2 separate regions of the Homo sapiens genome follow, and region 1 is linked to region 2. Evidence: fine-mapped expression QTL. Tissue or cell type: lung. Region 2 holds a variant in brackets; the other region holds the start of a gene. All regions are shown on one strand. Distances are from middle to middle.

Region 1 (2,500 bases), 25 kb after region 2:
ACCCCAGCCAGAAGCCCCAGGCCGGCAAACCAGCCCAGAGCCCCCCATGGGTGCCGCTTTGCGGCCCACCCACCCCCACAGCCCACCTCGCACCTCCAAGGAGCCTTCTTTGCCTCTCACTGCACACCGACCCCCCATTTCCTCACCCCCACCCCAGGGGCACAGCAAGAAGGGTGCTGGTGCCAGCCCCCCCGCACTCCATCCGAGAGACACGGGCTCCTCGTCCCTCGTCGTCCGTAGGCCCTGAGCTCCAGGGCAAGCCAGAGCTGAGGCCTTCAGGGGGTCCTGCCAGTGCAGCCTCCGGGAGTCTGCCCAGGGATCCCCTGTGCCGGGGTCTTCCAGGTTCAGCTCAAAAAGCACCTCTTCCACGACTCCCTCCCCGACCTCCCTCCCGGGTCCCCTCTCCCCGTGCTCAGAGGCGCGTCTGAGCGTCGGGAGCTCGGGACGGCGAGCAGCCAGCAGAGCCGGGACCCGGGAGGGCGCACCCCGACCCCATTCCCGGGAAAGAGCGGAAAGAACGCGGACAGGAGCCCGGGGCGGGGAGCTGCCGGCGGGGGCTGTAATTGCGCAGCTGAGGCCAGGGCGGCGCCCCTAGGGGCTGGGCCGCGTCCAGAATGGGACCCCCGAACTCAGCGCCGAGAGCCCCGGACACCCCGCGGGCAGAGGCCGAGGCGGAGGAACCCACTACTCGGCGCGGCCAGGAGGGGCGGCAGGAAGACCCGCCCCGGCCCCCGCCCGCCCTCTCCCCGAGCCCCCGCGCCGGACCCCACTTGTTGCTGCGTGTCGGCTCTGGGCTCGAACTCGCGCGCCCCGCTCGCGTCCGGCTCCAGCCGCTCCCGGTCGGACACCTCCGGCCACGGGACCCTGGCCGCACGCCCCCACAACCCCCAGGCGCAGTACCTGCGCCGCCGCCTCCCGCTCGCGCCGCCCGCTCCCGCCGCGCAGCTGTCAGTCAAGCGGACACGAGAAACGCGAACCGCCGCCGCAGCTTTACGGCCCTGCTCAGACGCCGTAGCGCCGGGATGCACCAAGACGGTGGGCGGGGGTGTGCGGTCTGCTGCTGCCGCGGCCGCGCGGGCCCGGGAGCCCCGGGACGCACAGGCCCAGGAGCCCCGGGACGCACGGGAAGCCCCTATCGCGGCGGAAACTGCGGCCAGCGGTGGCGGGGCCGGTGGAGGGACGGCCGGAACAGCGGAGAACGAGCGGAGCCGATTCTCCCGCAACAGTGGACGCGCCCGGGGCGGGGCCTGGGGGGGTTCTTCGCGTGCGGCCGGGCCGGGCCGGGCAGTCTGGGACGCGCCGCCGCCATGATCATCCCTGTACGCTGCTTCACTTGTGGCAAGATCGTCGGCAACAAGTGGGAGGCTTACCTGGGGCTGCTGCAGGCCGAGTACACCGAGGGGTGAGGCGCGGGCCGGGGCTAGGGGCTGAGTCCGCCGTGGGGCGCGGGCCGGGGCTGGGGGCTGAGTCCGCCCTGGGGTGCGCGCCGGGGCGGGAGGCGCAGCGCTGCCTGAGGCCAGCGCCCCATGAGCAGCTTCAGGCCCGGCTTCTCCAGCCCCGCTCTGTGATCTGCTTTCGGGAGAACCTTATCCCCTGAAGTCTGGGGAAGAGAACGGAGTTGGGCTTCAAACCAGTGGTGTCCTGGGGATTCTAGGTGGCCTGGCGGGTCGCAGGCGTCTTGTCACCCGCAGTAAAGCCCTTGGCCTCCGCCCTATTCCCATCTCTGCCCCCAGGCCCACCCCATGTCCTGCAAACCTCGCTGCAGGACGGGCGGGCGCGGCGGCTGACATCTGTAATCCCAGCAGTTTGGGAGGCCGAGGCGAGAGGCTTGCTTGAGCCCAGGAGGTCGAGACCAGCCTGGACAACCTGGGGAGACCCTGATCTCCAGAAATTTATTTTATTTTATTTTTCTTTTTTGAGACGGAGTCTCGCTCCGTCGCCCAGGTTGGAGTGCAGTGGCGCGATCTCGGCTCACTGCAACCCCCGCCTCCTGGGCTCCAGCAATTCTCCTGTCTCAGCCTCCCGAGTAGCTGGGACTACAGGCGTGTGCCACCACGCCCGGCTAATTTTTGTATTTTCAGTAGAGATGGGATTTCGCCATGTTGGCCAGGCTGGTCTGGAACTCCTGACCTCAGGTGATCCACCCGCCTCGACCTCCCAAAGTGCTGAGGTTACAGGCGTGAGCCACCGCGCCTGGCTCTATCTTTTTAATTCGCCGGACATGGCGGTGCACACCTGTGGTCCCAGCTACTTGGGAGGCTGAGACGAGAAAATCGCTTGAGTCTGGGAGGCAGGTGGAGGTTGCAGTGAGCCAAGATCACGCCACTGCACTCCAGCCTGGAAGAGAGAGTGAAACTCCGTCTCACGCACACACACACACAGAAAAAGAAATGCAGGGTAGACTTGCTGACCACCCTCATCAGGCTTTGTAGGGGAGGCGTCTTTCTCCTGTGCTTGTCCCTTGGTGCTGCTGTCACCACGGTGCCTGAGTCTTGGTGCC
Region 2 (2,749 bases):
TCATGCCTGTAATCCCAGTACTTTGGAAAGCCGTGGCGGGAGGAACGCTGGGCAACATGGTGAAACCCCGTCTCTACCCCCTAAAAATAGAAAAATTAGCAAGACATGGTGGCATGTGCCTGTACTCCTGGCTACTCAGGAGGCTGAGATGGGAGGATCGCTTGATGAGGTTGAGGCTGCAGTGAGCTGTGACCGACTGCACTCCAAAAACCTTGTCTAAAAAAACACAAGCTGCCACTGGCTTTGGGGCACTGACCTTGTCTCCCCAGAGGTGCTGACGCTAACATTCAAGTTGTTCTCGGGGGTCCTGTGGCTTCTGTTGGAGTGAGGGTGGGGGACACGCAGGTCTGGGAGGGTGGTGTGGGCCTGGAGCTAGGCATTGCCAGATCAGCATTGGGTGGAGGCAGGGGTGGGGATGCCACACAGGATGGGATGTCTAGAGCGGGCTGTGTCTCCCGGGGGGATGGGCAGAGGGTGGGGCAGGAATTAGCTGGAAATGAGATTGTGGGGTGCAGTTTGGGGATCAGATGCCCCAACCTGAACTGACCGTCATCCCTGTGGCCAGGGTCCCCACACAACCCTCACCCCTGGCTGTGAGAATCCTGAGGCACCTTGATGCATTTTTTTTCATGCCCTGTGACAGGTGCTTTGTGCTGCCAGCTCACTTAAAGGGGCAGAGTTCTAGGAACAAAATAGGGGAAAAGCACAGCCCCGCCTCGACAGCAGGCCCCAGGGTAGGGGGCGATGTGGAGGGAGGCCCGCCTCAGGAGGAGCCCCCGGGGTGGGGGGGTGAAGCAGAGGGAGGCCACCCCTAGCAAAGGCTGGCAGTTCAGGGACGGCCCCCCAGGGGCCTTGGCACTTTATTTTTTATTACTTTTTTTTTTTTTTTTTTTGAGATGGACTCTTCCTGTGTCATCCAGGCTAGAGTGCAGTGGTGCGATCTCGGCTCGTTGCAACCTCCATCTCCTGGAATCAAGCGATTCTCCTGCCTCAGCCTCCCAAGTAGCTGGAATTACAGGCGCCCGCCACCACGCCCGGCTAATTTTTTATTTTTAGTAGAGACAGGGTTTCACCATGTTGGCCAGGCTGGTCTCAAACTCCTGACCTCAGGTTATCCACCCACTTTGGCCTCCCAAAGCCGAAGGGATTACAGGTGTGAGTCACTGCACCCGGCCTCATCACTTCTTAGAGCTAATGTCATGATTTCCTTAAAACCAGAGGTCTGGAGACTGCTCTGCAGGCAGCTCCCCCAAGCCTGTGCACCAGGTGACCCCACAGCCCCAGGGCTCTGCCTAAGCACCGTTCATGCCAGAGGCTGCCCTGCCCCAGGCCTGGGTGCCAGAAGGGAAGATAGGGTAGGGAAGGCAGACGAGCAATAGACGCAAGGTTGCTGCTCACACTTTATTAAGATGCACCAGGAGCCCCACGGGCCCACTATGGAATGTAGGTGAGGGGTCCACGGCCCCGCCTGGAGCACCAGGACCAGTGGGGCCACCTCCAGGATGCCAAGACCCGGCTCCTCCAGCGCCAACCTGTTTTCCAGGAGGCTGGGGGCCACAGGCTGGCTCCCGTGTGAAC[A/C]CTGCTTTGGAGAATACGTAAATATAAAAAGTGCTGGAGGCCCCTCCCACCCCTGCCCTGGGTTCCGCAGCCAGCACGTGGCCACCCCTCCCAGGGGGGGTCCGGAGGCCCTGAAGCCACCTGAGCTAGGGCCTTCCAGAAACAGGGTTCCGGGGGCTCCAGGCACCTGTCCCTCCCTCCCTCCTCCCAGCATGGGGCAGAGCACCGAGGCTGGTGGTGGGAAAGGCAGCTGTGGGTGCGGCCATCTCCCCGTGGGCGTCCTTTTGGCAGAGAAGCGGGCGGTGGGCGGCCTACGCGCAGTAGGTGTCTGCCTTGACCACTTGGCAGTACATGGTCATGGCGAAGGTCAGGCCCAGGATCTGTAGGTAGGGGAGGAGGACTGGGCATGGCAGCTCCACAGGCTCAGGCCTCAAGCCCAGAGCAGTCCCTGTCCTCAGCAGGTGCCCTGGCCCTGACCCCGACCCCAGGGTGGGCGACACAGTGGCAGAGCCCTTCAGCTTCCTGGTGGCTTGCACGCCCCACCCAACCCCTGTGGCTCGAGCCACAGCACCCTCCCCTGAGCCTTGCAGGCATGAGGACACCCAGAACTTCCTGAGGGCTGTGGAGTTTGGAAACCAGGGGCCACTGGCACCAGGGCCCCAGCTGCCACCCTCTGTGCACTGGCCAGTCCTGGGCCACCGACCAACATGGACGACCACCGGCCTCCACCCCACACCAGCCTCTGCCTCTGTCCACTAAGAGGGAGCCCACTGTCCCCACAGGCCGTCCCTGCCCATCCCCCTGAACTCGCCCTCCTGCTTTTGCCCCGGCCTCCCCCGATCGTGGGTTCCTGGGGGCAAGGTCTTTGCTACTTTGTTCCCTGGGCTCAGAAGGTCCTAACAAAGTGGGGGCAGGGAGCCCGCAGGCCCCCAGGCCATACCTGCACCAGCGCCGTGCACAGCCCAAAGATGCCCACAGCCAGCAGGTTCTCCTGAAGCCACACCTTCACCGTCTCGTAGCACGGCTGCAGGGAGGGATGTCATGCGTGTCACGGCAGGGCCTGCTGGTCCCGCCCTCTAGGCCCCTACCAGCCCCCAGGGTGGGGGTCTCACTCACCGCCTTCCACCAGGTGCCGGGGGCGTGCAGCCCACAGCTCTCACTGAACTCCAAGCAGCAGGAGTCAGGTACCCGC

The links. PIP is the estimated chance that this variant, and not a neighbour inherited with it, causes the effect.
Region 1: it holds the start of TSPAN4, and the variant in region 2 is fine-mapped to the expression of TSPAN4 in lung (TOPMed, PIP above 0.99). The same link has a PIP of 0.9 or more in fibroblasts, nasal epithelium, pancreas, testis, tibial artery and tibial nerve.

The regions. Positions count from the first base shown.
Region 1 is chr11:841,316-843,815 of GRCh38, reverse strand. TSPAN4 (tetraspanin 4) reads right to left here and starts at 964. Exons shown (of 9, transcript NM_003271.5): 1 at 901-964. POLR2L (RNA polymerase II, I and III subunit L) reads left to right here and starts at 1,287. Exons shown (of 2, transcript NM_021128.5): 1 at 1,287-1,402. The coding sequence starts at 1,308. RefSeq lists silencers at 292-460, 446-675, 696-785, 896-1,525 and enhancers at 794-1,537, 1,538-2,283, 2,284-2,500.
Region 2 is chr11:865,750-868,498 of GRCh38, reverse strand. It overlaps TSPAN4 (tetraspanin 4), which reads right to left. Exons shown (of 9, transcript NM_003271.5): 7 at 2,674-2,749; 8 at 2,498-2,581; 9 at 1,388-1,937. The coding sequence ends at 1,869. It overlaps CHID1 (chitinase domain containing 1), which reads left to right. Exons shown (of 13, transcript NM_023947.4): 13 at 1-640. Among named protein-coding and RNA genes, the nearest start is that of TSPAN4, 24 kb to the right of the region's middle. RefSeq lists an enhancer at 2,103-2,636. The variant A/C (reference allele first, on the strand shown) is at 1,579.